Regions from separate parts of the Homo sapiens genome. Here region 2 is linked to region 1. Evidence: fine-mapped expression QTL. Tissue or cell type: whole blood. Region 1 holds a variant in brackets; the other region holds the start of a gene. All regions are shown on one strand. Distances are between the middles of the regions.

The links. PIP is the estimated chance that this variant, and not a neighbour inherited with it, causes the effect.
Region 2: BLOC1S3 starts here. The variant in region 1 is fine-mapped to the expression of BLOC1S3 in whole blood (TOPMed, PIP above 0.99).

Annotation. Positions count from the first base shown.
Region 1 is chr19:45,123,164-45,131,163 of GRCh38, forward strand. All of the region lies in intron 1 of PPP1R37 (protein phosphatase 1 regulatory subunit 37), which reads left to right. It also overlaps the pseudogene EIF5AP3. Among named protein-coding and RNA genes, the nearest start is that of NKPD1, 34 kb to the right of the region's middle. RefSeq lists enhancers at 2,842-2,981, 6,566-7,067 and a silencer at 7,088-7,382. The variant C/G (reference allele first, on the strand shown) is at 3,939.
Region 2 is chr19:45,175,379-45,183,378 of GRCh38, forward strand. It overlaps BLOC1S3 (biogenesis of lysosomal organelles complex 1 subunit 3), which reads left to right and starts at 3,406. Exons shown (of 2, transcript NM_212550.5): 1 at 3,406-3,453; 2 at 3,910-6,422. The coding sequence starts at 3,919. The coding sequence ends at 4,527. TRAPPC6A (trafficking protein particle complex subunit 6A) reads right to left here and starts at 2,859. Exons shown (of 6, transcript NM_001270891.2): 1 at 2,757-2,859. The coding sequence starts at 2,840. RefSeq lists enhancers at 2,237-3,180, 3,193-3,262, 3,333-3,652, 4,193-4,693, 5,119-5,620 and silencers at 2,613-2,832, 4,003-4,312.

The DNA.
Region 1 (8,000 bases):
GATTGTGCAGAAGGCTCTGGGACAGAGCTGGCTTGTGGGGGATTGGGCCACTGCCTATTGGAGGCATTTGGGGGCTGTCCCAGGGGTGAGTGCACCCCAGGCTGGACCAGGTGCCCACACCTCTCCCGCCCAGCACTGGCACCTGTGAAGGGCCTCTGGAGGCTGGGTCTTCCTGCAGGCACCAGGAAGAAACCTACGAGCGCATCCTTGCTGAGGGCAGGACCCGCTCTCCACATCCTGGAAACCCAACAGAGAAAGACAGTCTCTCTGGCAGCCTCCCTGTCTTGAAGTTCGAGAAGGCTGCATTTCTAGGCTCCCACAACCTGTCTGTCCGGTTTGAAGCCGGGGCCTGAGGGCTTCAGGGTACTGATGCAGGACAGACAGCTCTGGTTCAAACCTCCCTCTGTCCGCTCCCACAGGTGTGGCCTCAGAAGACCATTCCCTCTGTAGCGTGGTAGAGGCTGGAAATTCTACTCTGCAGGATTATGATGCGGATTAAATGCAGTAATCGAGTGTTTGGCAGAGTGCCTGGTAGGGAAGGGGTTCAGTAAAGAGCTGCTCGCACCATTCTGTGCAGGGAATGCTTTAGGGCATGTTTTAGAATTTTAGAACGTGTTTCACTACATGAGTAGCTTCTTGCAGCTTTGAGGCCCTGGCATCCCTCTCCCCTGCCTGCAGGCTTCCTTGTTCACTGGGCCAAGTCCCCGCAGTAATCTTCCTAAGCATGGAGTAGACCGGGCCCTTCCTGGCCAGAACATCCCCATCTACCTTCAGGGTCTACTGCAGTGGCCAGATGTGAGCTTCTCCTCTGTCCGCTCACTCACCTTCTCTGTGCCTGTCTTGGCCCCTTCTCTGTGCCTGGCTGGCCCCATGTGGAGCAATGTTGGGGTAACAGTGTGGACCACAGACCACCCCATGCTGTCTTCCTAGGACTCATAGTCCAGTGGGGGAGACACACAGGTCTCCAGATGGTGACAACTCAGAGGGGACAGGGCTGAGACGGGGAGCCCAGAGGGTGGGGCCTGACCTACCGTGGGGATCAGGGAGGGCTTCCTGGAGAAGGCATCCCTAAGCTGAGAATTGAAGAAGTAGTAAGCAGTGAGAGCATGTACCGTGTAATGTGTAAAGGGGAGGGAGAATGTGAGGTGCTGGGAAGCACCGGGCCCTTCGGGGGACGGGAAGAATTTGGGTGTGGCCAGAGCACAGTGCCCCATGAGTGGAGAGGTCCAGATTGTCTATTTTTCTTTTCTTTTTTTTCCCCCAATGATCCTAGAAATTCTCCCAAGAGAGGTCCAGATTTTTTGACAAGGCTGAAGGGCGGCCCCTGAGACCTGACTCTACCTGTCTGCCTGGCCTTTCCTCAGTCCAGTGCGTGCACGGCCCCCTCCTCGCTCTCACGCATCATCTGTGTGCTCCTTCCCTGCCAGACAAGAACCCCTGGAGGGCAGGGACCAGTTCAGAGCCATCCCTGTCTCCCCAGTGCCAGCACAGAGCTTGGCCTGAGTAGGTTTTGGGGACTGGGCTTGGTGGCTCACACCTGTAATCCCAACATTTTGGGAGGCTGGGGCAGGAGGATCACCTGAGCCCAGGAGTTCAAGACCAACCTGTACAACATACTGAGACCCGGTCTCTACATAAAAAAAGAAAAAAAAAAAAAACTGGCCAAGCATGGTAGGGTGTGCCTGTAGTCTCAGCTACTTGGGAGGTTGAGGTGGGAGGGTCACTTGAGCCCAGGAGTGCAAGGCTGCAGTGAGCTATGATTGAGCCGCTGAACTCCAGCCTGGGTGACAGATGGGGACCCCCCAAAAAATAGGTTTTGGGAAATGTTTACCAGATGAGAGGCAAGACGGAATTCTCCTAAATTCGAAGCTTGGAATTCTCCTAAATTCGAAGCCTGAGGCAGAATGGTTGAAGCAAAAAGAGGAGATTTGTTGTCTTATGGGTCTGAAGGGTCCTGAATAGTGTGGTGTCAGGCACAGTATCTCTTTATCAAACAATATCTCTTTAATCTCTGAGCTTGGCCGGGCACAGTGGCTCACGTCTGTAATCCCAGCACTTTGGGAGGCCGAGGCGGGCGGATCATTAGGTCAAGAGCTGGAGACCATCCTGGCCAACATGGTGAAACCCCGTCTCTACTAAAAATACAAAAATTAGCCGGGTGTGGTGGCGCGTGCCTGTAGTCCCAGCTACTCAGGAGGCTGAGGCAGGAGAATTGCTTGAACCTGGGAGGCAGAGGTTGCAGTGAGCCAAGATCACACCACTGCACTCCAGCCTGGCGACAGCGAGACTCCATCTAAAAAATAAAATATCTGAGCTTGGCTTTCCTCTGAGCTGGCTTCATTCGCGGAAGGCTGTTCCCTCCTGATGGGTGCAGGGATGGCTGCCAGTAGCTCTAGAAATGGGATGCAGTCTTAACCACCCTAGTGGGAAGAGAGCTCCTCTTTCCTGAGAGTTCCATCTCAGGGCGTAGGACCGGCTGTGGCTGGCTCTGTAACCTTCCTGTCCCTGACCGATCATTGTAACAGAGGTTGTGGGACGGGGCACCTATCCACTCCTAGAACCTTTGGGGAGGACAGCGGGGAGTCAAGGTAAAGTGAAGAGGCCTATCCAGGCTCCTGGGGTGAGAGAGATTGGGTGACCAAGGCTGGTCCACCCAGGGGAAGACAGGAAGAGAAGTGGGCCATTCTGGCCTCAGACCTCTTCGTCCTTTCCCAGACCCCACGCCAAGGCAGAGCTCCCTGTGGGATGAGTTTCTCACTTGACCTGAAATCTCTACTTGTGGGGCTGCTGCAAGTGCACAGGCTTCAGGAAAGGTGGACCACACCCCCTGTGCCCCAGGCTCCTTCCCGAGGGTGTGCAGCCCACCATCCAGATAGGGGTGGATGGTGCCCAAGTCGTGGGGGCTGACAAGCATGGAGAGTCCTGCAGAGAGGCCCAGCACCGGATTCCCAGGCTGCTCCTTGAGACGCTGTCCCACATGGGCCGGTCACTCACCTGCCATGAGACTCCCAACTGGGACCTTCCCTGCAGAGCCTGTGAGGTGGAACGATGGTGATGGTGCCCCCTTGTGGGGTAGGTGCATGTGGCAGGCACAGAGTGGTGGCAGCAACTGTAACATACGGTTCTGGAGGGCAGGGACAGGGGCCCTTCCTGTGTGCCTTGTGGTGCTGAGTGCCAGGCTGGGTGAGCTCACCAAGCCCTCCCTGGGAAGGTGCTGTTGATGCAGCAGGGAGGCCCAGGGCAGTCACTGCTCTGTGCTGTTGGCGACGGAGCAGGGATTGGAACCCAGGCGCCTGGCTTCGAGGCCCGCATGCTGTGGGGAAATGGGGCTCTGCCATGTTGGTGGTTATTTATTGTCGTGAACAAGAGCTCAGGCCTGGTTTCCAGGTGTGACTTTATTGCACCCTCGCCCTACCTCCCCGGCTTGAGAATTCTGGAAAATACCACAATAAGTGTTTCTTTTCTCTTTTGAGATTATGTAAATAATACTTGCCTCCATGCTCTTAAAAGAAAATGACATCTCTATTTCCATGTGTTGCGGTGTTTCCTGGTTTGGGACCCCACCAGCTATCCAGTCACCCAGGCTTGAAGCCAGGTTCTTCCCAGCTTCTCTCTCCACCCTGCCCATCCCTGTGCATGTAGCAGTGACCAGGTCCTATCGATTATCTGATTATCTGCCGGAAGCCTCAGGAATGGGAGCCTTCTGAGTCAGCACATCACCAGGAGCACGGCCTGTGGCCAGGCTGCTCAGGGGCTGGTGATGTTGGTTTCTTTCACCTTAATGTGTGAGTTGTGTAGTAATACGGTCCTATATCACTTAATGATGACACATTCTGAGAACTGCGTCGTTAGGTGATTTCATGGTCATGTGAACATCCTAGTGGACTTACACAAACCTAGGCCTGGTCAGGCCTGGTGGCTCACACCTGTAATCCCAG[C/G]ACTGTGGGAGTTCTAGATGGGCGGATCACCTGAGGTCAGGAGTTTGAGACCAGCCTGACCAACCTGGTGAAACCCCATCTCTATTAAAAATACAAAATTAGCCTGGCGTGGTGGCGTGTGCCTGTAATCTCAGCTACTCGGAAGGCTGAGGCAGGAGGAGAATCGTTTGAACCTGGGAGGTGGAGGTTGCAGTAAGCTGAGATCATGCTATTACACTCCAGCCTGGGCAAGAAGAGTAAAACTCCATCTCAAAAAAAAAAAAAAAAAAAAAAAACCCTAGGTGGCATGCCTACTGCACACCTGGGCTACCTGGAATAGTCTAGTGCTCTTGGGCTCCACACCTGCACAGCATGTGGCTGTGCTGAGTACCCTCGGCAAGTGTAACACAGTGGTAGGTATTTGTGTATATGAACGTAGACAAGGGACAGTAAAAATATAGTGGGAAATCTTATGGGACCACCGGCTGCATATGCAGTCCATCATTGACTGAAATGGCTTTATGCGGCTTATGACTAGACCTGTATGTGCCTCAGTATTCAAAAGATGTAAAAAGGTGGACAGAGATTCAACATAAAGAAATGATCAATGTTTGGGCCGGGCGCGGTGGCTCACGCTTGTAATCCCAGCACTGTGGGAGGCCGAGGTGGGTGGATCATGAGGTCAGGAGATAGAGACCATCCTGACTAACACAGTGAAACCCTGTCTCTACTAAAAATACAAAAATTAGCCAGGTGTGGTGGCACATGCCTGTAGTTCCATCTACTAGGGAGGCTGAGGCAGGAGAATCCCTTGAACCCGGGAGGCAGAGGTTGCAGTGAGCCGAGATCGTGCCACTACACTCCAGCCTGGGCAACAGAGCGAGACTCCATCTCAAAAAAAAAAAAAAAAAAAGATAAATGTTTGAGGTGATATGCTAATTACCCTGACTCAATCCTTGTATGCATTTATCGAAATACCACATGTACCCCATAAATATGTATAATAATTATGTATTAATAAAATTAAACATTTTAAAAAATGTATATAGAGAGAAGGAAGTTTCTCTCTCCCTGTCCTCCTTTGGCTTTGCCAGCTCACCTTCCTAAAAGCAGTCACCTAGTTTATTGTATGTCCTTCTGGAAGGATCTCTGATGGAGCTTAGCTAATGACAATCCACAGCAGCCACAGCCCAGGCCAGCCGACAGAGTTTGTAAATAAAGTTTTATTTGCACATGTCCAGGCTCATTTGTTTATATACTATCTATTACTCTTTTCATGCTACAAGGCAGAGTTGAGTAGTTGCTGCAGAGCCTAGTCTGATCATTTAAGCAAAATATTGTGATGCCTGCAGCTGTGTGTGTTTAAAGTCAAGGCAGGGTGGTAGAGGCAGCGGCAGCAGCAGGCCCAGAGGCAGCGGTTGGGTTTGCAGCGAGAAGACAAGGTTGAGTCAGTGTGTTTGCGAGAGCTGGAATCGAAGCCTCTTAAAATGGCAGATGATTTGGACTTCGAGACAAGAGATGCAGGGGCCTCGGCCTCCTTCCCAATGCAGTGCTCAGCATTATGTAACACTGGCTTCGTGGTGCTCAAAGGCTGGCCCTGTAAGGTCTTTGAGATGTCTGCTTGGAAGACTGGCAAGCACAGCCGCGTCAAGGTCCACCTGGTTGGTATTGACATCTTTACTGGGAAGAAATATAAAAATAACTGCCTGTCACCTTATAATGTGGGTGTCCCCAGCATCAAAAGGAATGACTCCCAGTTGATTGGCATCCAGGAAGGTACCCCTCACTGCTCCAGGACAGCAGGGAGGTGCGAGAGGACCTTCTTCGTCTGCCAGAGGAGACCTTGGCAAGGAGATGAGCAAAAGTACCGCTGTGGAGAAGGGACCCTGATCACCGTGCTGTCTGCCATGACAGAGGAGGCAGCTGTTGCAGTCAAGGCCATGGCAAAAGAACTGGCTCCCAGGGTGACAGTGGTGGCAGCAGTGATCTTCTGAGACTGCAGAGGCCCCCTCCTCTGGCCTTCTGTAGGCTGGACTCTTCCTACACAATGTATTTGATGTTTTATTTTGTTTTTCCCACCCCTTCAATCTGTCGGGGAGCCCCTGCCCTTCACCTAGCTCCCTTGGCCAGGAACAAGCAAAGCCATGGCCTTGGTGAAGCTGCCATCCTTTTCCCTGCTCGCACTACAGCCCTGGTTGGGGGGAGACGGTGGGCGATGCTTGTGGTTTATTTATTTGAGACAGAGTCTCACTCTGTTGCCCAAGCTGGAGTGCACGGGGCACCATCTCGGCTTACTGCAACCTCCACCTCTTGGGTTAAGCAGTTCTCCTGCCTCAGCCTCCCGAGTAGCTGGGATTACAGGCACGTGCCACCATGCCAGGCTAATTTTTGTATTTTTAGTAGAGACAGGGTTTCACTATGTTGGCCAGGCTGGTCTTGAACTCCTGACCTCGTGATCTGCCCGTCTCGGCCTCCCAAAGTGCTGGGATTACAGGTGTGAGCCACTGAGCCCGGCCTTATTTATTTATTTTAATTCAATCTGGAATCAGAAAGCGGTGGATTCTGGCACATGGTCCTTGTGCCCTCCCCACTCACCCCTGGTCTGGTCCCCTGTTCCCCATGGTCCTATACCCTAAGCACGACCCCCACAGACTAAGGCCAGCCCCCTGCCGTACCTGTGCCTCTCCCCAAACCCCTTTAGATGGGGAGGGAAAAGGAGGAGCGGGGAGGGGTCCTGCCCCCATGGGCTTTACCCTTCCCTGCGGTCTCTCTCCCCAACACATTTGTTAAAATCAAACCTGAATAAAACTACAAGTTTAATATGGAAAAAAACAATAATAGTCGAGGCAGACCTGGGCCTTTTAGTCTGTACTCTTGCCTCTGTGAGCCTTGACTCTGAAAAGGGGATAGTAAAAGGATGTCTCTTGGGGTGGCTGGGGGGCTTCTGTGGGGTCCAGGCAGCACAGGACCTAACCAGCAGGGTGCCAAGCAGGGGGATGCCTGGGCTGCAGGCATTGACTCGCCTGTGTCCCACAACCCCTCTTGGAGCTGGAGCACTAGCGGGGGCTCAGCTGCCAAAACCCAGGGACAGGTGAGGCTGTCACCATCCAAGATGGCAATCTGGTGTGCCATTCCTGACTGCCAACCTGCACGATCAGGTCCCCTCCCCGTGAGTACTACAGGGGACCCCACTCCTGCAGAATACAATCCTCCCATGAGCCTGAATCCATCCTGTTGCTGCTCTGCCCCTCGCCCCCAGTGGCTCCGGTCTCCTGCAGAATGAGAGCGAAGTCCTCACCAGGGTCCACGGGGTCACCGTCCCACATCATCCCCAGTGCTCCCCTCCCGGTGTGCTTTGGCGCCGAGCCTGCTCCCACCGTCACACTTAAGCCTGCCCCAGTGGTTGCTGCCTGCCACGGGGTTTGCACAGGGACTGCGCAGTGGGCCTCCTGAATGAAGACCCAGACCTGAGCCCGGTGGGGCCTCTGGGAACACTCCTTTCAAGGCCAGCTCACCCTGGCTCCTTTCTGTTCATTCCAAAATAACAAAATAACACCTGCATTGCAAAGCGTGGTTATTCTGAGCCTGGTTGCCATCACAGTCATATGGGGACCTGTTAAAATCTGGGCCCCTGGGCCCTAGCTAGGACCTCCTGACTCTGGTGCTCTGTGAACCTGGCTCGCAGACGTCCCGATTTCATGTGGTGGACACTGGGGCATGGGAAGGTCATTTCCAGCCAGAGGTAGCATGGTTGTTACGGAGCAGCCCTAAATATTCCTGCTCCAGGCTTGTCTGGACTTCCTCCCTCCCCATCCCTCCTCTGAGAGTTGACACCCTCCCACTGTGTCCCCCAGCCCGCACAGTGTTGCTTCCTGGTGTTTTGACTCCCACTTGGATGACTGTGTCTGTTTCCCCCGCCCTGCTCCAGGCTGGCACGGATGGTGTGAGTCATCACCGCCCCCTGATGCCCAACCTGTCCTTGCATCTCTTGGGTACCATTGCACCTGTGTGCAAATGCCAGACAGACATCTCTCTGCCTGTCACCTGATGCCCGGCGTCAGGTTTCTCTCTGTCCCTTTGTGA
Region 2 (8,000 bases), 52 kb after region 1:
ATCGCGCCACTGCACTCCAGCCTGGGCGACAGAGCGAGACTCCGTCTCAAAAAAAAAAAAAAAATCAAATACATCCTTATTGAGTATGATGAAGCCTACCAAGAAAAAAGTGCGAGAGGGAGACCAGGAGAATGTATAAAGGAGATCCAAATTTGACTGGGGGCTCAGGGAAGGCATCCCTGAGGAAGGGATTGTTACGCTAAGATCTGAAGGATTAATAGTTGTTAGCATGGTGAAGATGTGACAGGTGGAATGGGCTGGGAGAAGGGAGCAGGCTCATTTCACAGGAGAGCGGAAAGCACTGGACCAGGGCAGAGGAGGGGCCACGTGAGAAAGGTATTTAGACTGACTGGGCAGAGCCTGGGGGAGGGCTGCAGGTGAGGGAGACAAGGCAGGTGTTGGGACTCCAGGGTTTCTCGTTTGAAAGCCAGGAAGGATATGGAGTGTTGGGACATTATTACCCACCCCCAGGCTGATGCATACTCCCTGGGCCATGCTGTATCTTCCTCATAGCAGTTACACAATGTACCAGACACTTTACTCATTTACTTGTCTGTCTCCTCCAATGATGACAAAGCTCCAAGAGTCCAAAAATTTTTGATGGTTCACTGAGTAATCCCCATGTTTTTTTAGAGACAGGGTCTCACTCTATCACCCAGGCTGGAGTGCAGTGGCATGATCATAGCTCACTGCAGCCTTGAACTCCTGGGCCCAGGCAATCCTCCCACCTCAGCCTCCCGAGTTCTTGGTAGTATAGGCATGTGTCATCACGCCCAGCTAATTTTAAAAATTTCTTGGCCAGGCACAGTGGCTCACACCTGTAATCCCAGCACTTTGGAAGCCCGAGGCGGGCAGATCACGAGGTCAGATCAAAACCATCCTGGCTAACATGGTGAAACCCCATCTCTACTAAAAATACAAAAAAAAAAAACAAAATTAGCCGGGTGTGGTGGCAGGCACCTGTAGTCCCAACTACTCAGGAGGCTGCGGCGGGAGAATTGCGTGAACCCAGGAGGCGGAGCTTGCAGTGAGCCAAGATTGCGCCACTGCACTCCAGCCTGGGCGACAGAGCAAGACTCTGTCTCAAAAATAAATAAATAAATAAAAATAAAAATTTCTTTTAGAGGTGAGGTCTTGCTATGTTGCCCAGGCTAGTCTTGAACGGTGGGCCTCAAGTGATCCTCCCACCTCTGCTTCCTGAGTACCTGGGATTACAGGTGCAAGTCGCCACATCTGGCTAAATGCATTTTTGATTTATGATGTTTTAAACTTATGACAGGTTTGTATCTGTATATCGAGATGGTAACAAGCAACATCCTCCCTGGGGCTTCTAACCCTGGAAGGAAACCAGAGCCAATAAAAATGTCTTACATGGCCAGGTGCGGTGGCTCACGCCTGTAATCCCAGCACTTTGGGAGGCCGAGGCGGGTGGATCACAAGGTCAGGAGTTCGACACCAGCCTGGCCAAAATGGTGAAACCCCGTATCTACTAAAAAAAAAAAAAAATTGGCCGGGTGCAGTGGCTCACGCCTGTAATCCTAGCACTTTGGGAGGCCAAGATGGGCAGATCACGAGGTCAGAAGATGGAGACCATCCTGGCTAACAGTGAAAACCCGTCTCTACTAAAAAAAATAATAATAATACAAAAAATTAGCCAGGTGTGGTGGCGCCAGCAGCGCTTGTGGTCCCAGCTACTTGGGAGGCTGAGAAGTGGGATGATCGCTTGAGCCCAGGAGGTCGAGGCAGCAGTGAGCCATGACTGCATCACTGCACTCCAGCCAGCCTGGGCGACCGAGCAGGATGCGCGTGCGCGCACACACACACACACACACACACACACAGTCCCGGGCCAGTCACGGTAGTTCACGCCTGTAATCCTAGCACTTTGGGAGGCCCAGGCGGGAGAATCACTTGAGCCTAGGGGTTCAAGACCAGCCTAGGCAACATGGCAAAACCCCATTATCTCTTTTTTTTTTTTCCTGAGACAAGTCTCGCTCTGTCGCCTAGGCTGGAGTGCAATGGCACAATCTTGGCTCACTGCAACCTCCGCCTCCCAGGTTCAAGCCATTCTCCTGTCTCAGCCTCCCGAGTAGCTGGGATTACAGGTACCCGCCATCATGCTCGGCTAATTTTTGTAGACACGGGGTTTCACCATGGCCAGGCTGGTCTTGAACTCCTGACCTCAGGTGATCCGACGGCCTCGGCCTCCCAAAGTGCTGGGAGCTACAGCGCCCAGCCGGCATATTTCATTTTATTATTTGACTCCCCTAGTGAAATGTAAGCTTCACAAGGAAGGGATTCTGTCTTAGAACGGTGCCTGGAATACAACAGACGCTCAATAAGTGGGTGTCGAATAAATAAATGTCCCACGCTGAGGCTTAGGTACGTTATGATACTCATTTTACAAAAGAGAAAACTAGGACACACAAAGATTAAGTCATTGGGTCGCACACCTAGTAAGTGGGGGAGGCGAGTCCTCAGCACACGCCCAATAACAGCATTATTATGATTACTAGCCGCTTACTCAGGCCTTGAGCTAAGTGCTTTACCCTGAATCATCGCGCTCAATTTAGCAATAACCCCGAGCCGGCACCGTCGCGAACGCCACTTTCCAAAGGAGGAAGCCAGGGCCAGACGTTGCCCTGCAAGGCCGGGGCTGGGCCGGGTTCGAACCCGGACGCCTGACGCGCCCTCCGCTCTCCCAGAGGCGTTACCTTGGTGGCCCCCGCTTCCTCCCCACGGAGCCCGGCGCTCACCCCCGGGCCGGGGTCGGGGTCGTGAGCCCACAGCTCAGCCACCATCTCCGTGTGAAGAAACTCAAACAACACAGTATCCGCCATGCCCCCTCCTCGCACGCCTAAAGATGCGCCCAGCGCTTCCAGCTCTCATTGGCCAGGCTTGGTAAGCCACGCCTCTTGCGTCATGGCGCGAGCCCTCCTACTCCGGCTTCCATTGGTGTTTTAGACTAGCCCCGCCTCCCCGCCCCGGACTCAGGTGGTGTGCGCGTGAGCCTGGGACACTAGGGGGCGGGCCTACGCCTTCTCTGGCCACATGTGGCAACATCTTCTGCTCTTACTGCCGTCCCTTCCCTATTTCCGGGTTCTCGAGCATTCCTATTGGCCAAATTACTGGTTACACGTGACATACTCGGCTTTTAAAATCCCTATTGGTCCACTCCAGACTTTCCTCGTCGCACAACCTGGAAGAGCCGGCCCAGCTGTTTCTCTATTGGCGGTTCCTCCATTCATGTGACTCTTCTGCACGCTCACTCAAAGCTGATGCTGAGAACTTGCTTCCTGATTGGTAGCCGGGCGAATCCACGTGACTTGGCCGCTAATGCCCGCCCAACCCGCTCCCCTATTGGTTGAAATCACAGCCCTTCAGCTGCCACGGTGAGAACGCAGCACTCGGGTTAGGAAGCGGATCTCGCAAGCTCCGAGCGTCAGCTGCCGGGTACGGTCTTTGGCGTTAGCGCTTCTCCCATCCCATGAGTGCCCCCAGCAGAGTCCAGTCGGACTGTCATCCTTTCTGCGACTCTGGCGCTGGTCCCGAGCAGCTCACGGGCCCGTGTGCTTCCGGGTCTGAGATTGGCATGGTGGACCAGGTGGAGGGTGTGGCCTCTACTAGGAGGCAAATTCGTAAAGACCTCGGCTTGGGACTCCGGGAACTCGGGCCCCAGATCCTTGTTCGAGCTGGTCTTCAGTTTCCCCATCTGTACGCTGAAGAGCCTGGGGTCCAGTAACCCCCATCATCACCCAGTTTACAGAAGAGGAAACTGAGGCCCAGACGGGGAGCAGCTGACACCAAGTCGTTAAGAGAATCAGCGAAGGGGCTGGGAATCCAGGACCTGCGCCTTTTACCCACCGCGGCGCCGGTCTCACGTGCAGTCCCTTCGCTCTTCTCCCCTAGTTCGGTGCCATGGCGTCCCAGGGTCGTCGGCGGAGGCCCCTGCGGAGGCCGGAGACGGTGGTGCCGGGGGAGGCGACCGAGACGGATTCCGAGCGCTCTGCGTCCTCGTCGGAGGAGGAGGAGCTGTACCTGGGTCCTTCGGGCCCGACGCGCGGCCGCCCCACGGGGCTGCGGGTGGCTGGGGAAGCCGCGGAGACCGACTCGGAGCCGGAGCCGGAGCCGGAACCGACGGCCGCGCCGAGGGACCTGCCTCCACTCGTGGTGCAGCGGGAATCGGCGGAGGAGGCCTGGGGCACGGAGGAGGCCCCGGCGCCCGCCCCCGCGCGCTCGCTCCTGCAACTTCGGCTGGCGGAGAGCCAGGCGCGGCTGGACCACGACGTGGCGGCCGCCGTGAGCGGTGTCTACCGCCGTGCAGGCCGCGACGTGGCCGCCCTGGCTAGTAGGCTGGCGGCAGCCCAGGCGGCGGGGCTGGCGGCGGCCCACAGCGTGCGCCTGGCGCGCGGGGACCTTTGTGCGCTGGCCGAGCGTCTGGACATCGTGGCTGGCTGCCGCCTGCTGCCGGACATCCGCGGCGTGCCAGGGACCGAGCCTGAGAAAGACCCGGGGCCGCGGGCCTAGCCATGATTCTACTTCCCAACCTGACTGCAATTTGGGGGTAGGCCTTGCTGCCTCTGGGACCTGACTCTGTCTCCTGTGTCTCTTATCACCCCCCACCCCCGCTCCCATCTTGGTGTCACCCATGGGGGCTAATCCGGTCCCCTTGGATAATGCTTTATATTGGATATAGTTCAACCCCTACTGCGGAGACCAGGGCCCCACTATCCTTAGATCTGGTTCCTCTCCCGATCCTGACCCTGCCGCCTGGTTCTGAGCCTTCCCCTGGGGCTTGGCTCCAGCCTTTGTTACATAGTTGCTCCTTAATCTGTTTCCACCCTGGGGGCTCACCAATTTTTTTTTTTTTTTTTTTTTTTTGGAGACAGGGTGTTTATCTGTCACCCAGGCTAGAGTGCAGTGGCGGGATTACTGCTCACTGCAACCTCGACCTCCTGGGCTCAAGTGATCCTCCCAGCTCAGCCTTCAAGAGTAGCTGGGACTGCAGACCTGCACCACCACGTCCAGCTGCCCGGTTAATTTTTTTCTGTCGGTTTGAAGAGGGGAGAAGGTCTCACTATGTTGCCCAGGCTTGTCTCAAACTCCCGGGCTCAAGCAATCCTCCCACTGTGGCGTCCCAAAGTGCTGGGGTTACAGGTGTGAGCCACCACACACTGGGCTCTGCTCTGCCTTTCTGAGTTTGGTTTCTGCTTATGGTGGGGAGCTTGTTCCCGTTCTTCCCACAAGAACCCAGGATGTGGCACAGCTTCCCTGCCGTCTTCCTTCACTCAGTTGGCTACGCCTCCCATCCTAGCTCCACTTCCAGAACTGCCTTCACCCTAGGCTGGGTCCTTGTTTTGTTTTTAGAGACAGGGTCTCACTGTGTCTCCCAGGCTGGAGTACAGTGGCGTGATCTCGGCTCACTGCCACCTCCACCTCCCGAGTTCAAGCGATTCTCCTGCCTCAGCCTCCCGAGTAGCTAGGATTACAGGCATGCACCACCACGCCTGGCTACTTTTTATATTTTTAGTAGAGATGAGGTTTCACCTTGTTGGCCAGGCTGGTCTCGAACTCCTGGCCTCAGGTGATCCACCCGCCTCACCTCCTAAAATGCTGGGATTACAGGCGTGGGCCACTGCGCCTAGCCAGCTGGGTCCTTGTTCTGCTGCCCAAGCTTGGCCCTGGTTCCGTGTGCTGGTTCTACTTTTTGTTCTCCCATCTGCCTCCTGCCTCCTCCCCTTTGAGCTTAGCCCCGCCCTCTCAGCCTGATTTCTGTTTCCCAAGTCCAGCAGTGTCGTGGGATAGGTTTTGCTTTCTTTTACTGTCTCCATCCTACTTACACCTCCCTGATCCTGGGGTCTGGGGACTCCCCATGGTTTCCTTCCTTCTGCAGGCCCAAAATGATGGCCCCTCTTAACCCAAGGCAGGGGATCTTCCTCCCAACTCCCTGGACCAAGGTGGCATTTCCTGCACACCCCTCCAGGCCAAGATGATGCTCGCTCTCAACTCTGTAGGCCAAGGTGGCGTCTCCTCTTGACTCTCCAGACCTAAAGTGACACCCTTCAGGCACTTCGGGCCCAATTCAGCCCAGTCCTGGTGCTTTCAGCGCCAGATGACAGCACTTTGCAGATAAGAACGATATGATGTGTGGATTTCACTACATTTGGCTCCTGGATGCTATAAAAGGACTTGGATTTCTGACTTGGCTCAGGGACTGGGGTTAGCAGTCTCTTTCTGCTCCTTTTCACCTGTGTTTTCTTCCGATCCCAGCTCTGGTCCCTCAGCCGCATTCATATTTACTCTCCTCTCCCAGCCTGATATCCCTGTCCCTCATCTCAACCCGAAGCCAAGATCTGAGCCCCCAAGATGGAGAATGGGGAGGAGCTTTTTATGGCGGACTGATTAAAACTCTTAAGCATTTACCCTTATGGTTAGTTCCTTTTGTTTCCCTATCTAAGCTAAGGGTGAGTTGGTTGATTTCTCTGAGAATGGGGGTCCCGAGACCTCCATGCCTGGCTTATGGAAGGTGAAGCTGTAGTTGGGAAATCAGGGGCCCTAGATTTTTGCCCTGGTTCTGTATTTACTCGTATTTTATTAATTCAACACACACGTTTTGGGTACCTGACCTGTGCTGCGGCTAGGGGTATAGCACCCAGTCCCTGCCCTCACAGAGGTCGCAGTCCAGTGGGAGAAACAGTAATAAGATGTTCTCATAGATAGTTCTAGTAATCATAATTTATAGTTTAATTTTTAAAAATAGAGATGATAGCCTGGCCAACATGGTGAAACCCTGTAGTTATTAAAAATACAAAAATTTTGGGCGATGTATCACGCCTGTAATCCTAGCACTTTGGGAGGCCGAGGCACGTGCTAGTAATTCCAGCTACTCAGGGAGCTGGGGCATGAGAATCGCTTGAACCCTGGAGGCAGAGGTTGAAGTGACCCAAGATCGTGCCACTGCACTCCAGCCCGAGCGACAGAGCAGGACTCTGTCTCAAAAATAAATAGGCCAGGCGCAGTTACGCATGTCTTTAATCCCAGCACTTTGGGAGATCGAGGTAGGCAGATCACCTGAGGTCAGGAGTTCTAGACCAGCCTGGCCAACATGGTGAAACTCTATCTCCACTAAAAATACATTAGCCAGGCGTGGTGGCACATGCCTGTAATCCCAGCTACTCGGGAGGCTGAGGCAGGAGAATCGCTTGAGCCCAGGAGGTGGAGGTTACAGTGAGCTGAGATCATGCCACTGCACTCCATCCTGGGTGAGAGTGAGACTCCATCTCAAAAATAAATAAAAAATAATTAATTTTAAAAAATAAAATAGAGACGAGCTCTCACAATGTTGCCCAAGTTGGTCTTGAACTTCTGAGCTCAAGGGATTCTCCTGTCTTGACCTCCCAAAGGGCTAGGATTACAGGCATGAGCCACTGCACCCAGCCATAATTTATAATTTAGATACAATTTTCTTGGCACCATGATTAGAGCCATGAAGAAGTAAAGGAGCTTTATGAAGGTGGAGCGGGATCCACCTGACCTAATCTGGGCGGGAGAGAGGAAGTGATGAGTGGTGCTGGAGCTGAGCCCGGAAGGTGGAAGTAGGTGAAATGGGAGTAGGGTGAAGAGTTGCAGACAGGGAGAACAGCATATGCGAGGGCCCTGAGGCAGAAGGGAAAGGGACCATAACCTGTTTAACAGAAGAAGATGATTTCTGCTCTCCACCTAGAATGGAGAAGTGTGGGGTGGTTGTGGGGCAGGGGGGTGCTGAGTGCAGTACCAGAAGGGGCCAGATAAAGGTGAGCTTTAAAAAAATTGTATTATTGGCTGTGCGCAGTGGCTCACGCCTGTAATTCCAGCACTTTGGGAGGTCGAGGCAGGCAGATCACCTGAAGTCAGGAGTTCGAGACCAGCCTGGCCAACGTGGTGAAACCCTGTCTCTACTGAAAATATAAAAATTAGGCATGGTGGCACATGCCTGTAATCCCAGCTACTCAGGAGGCTGA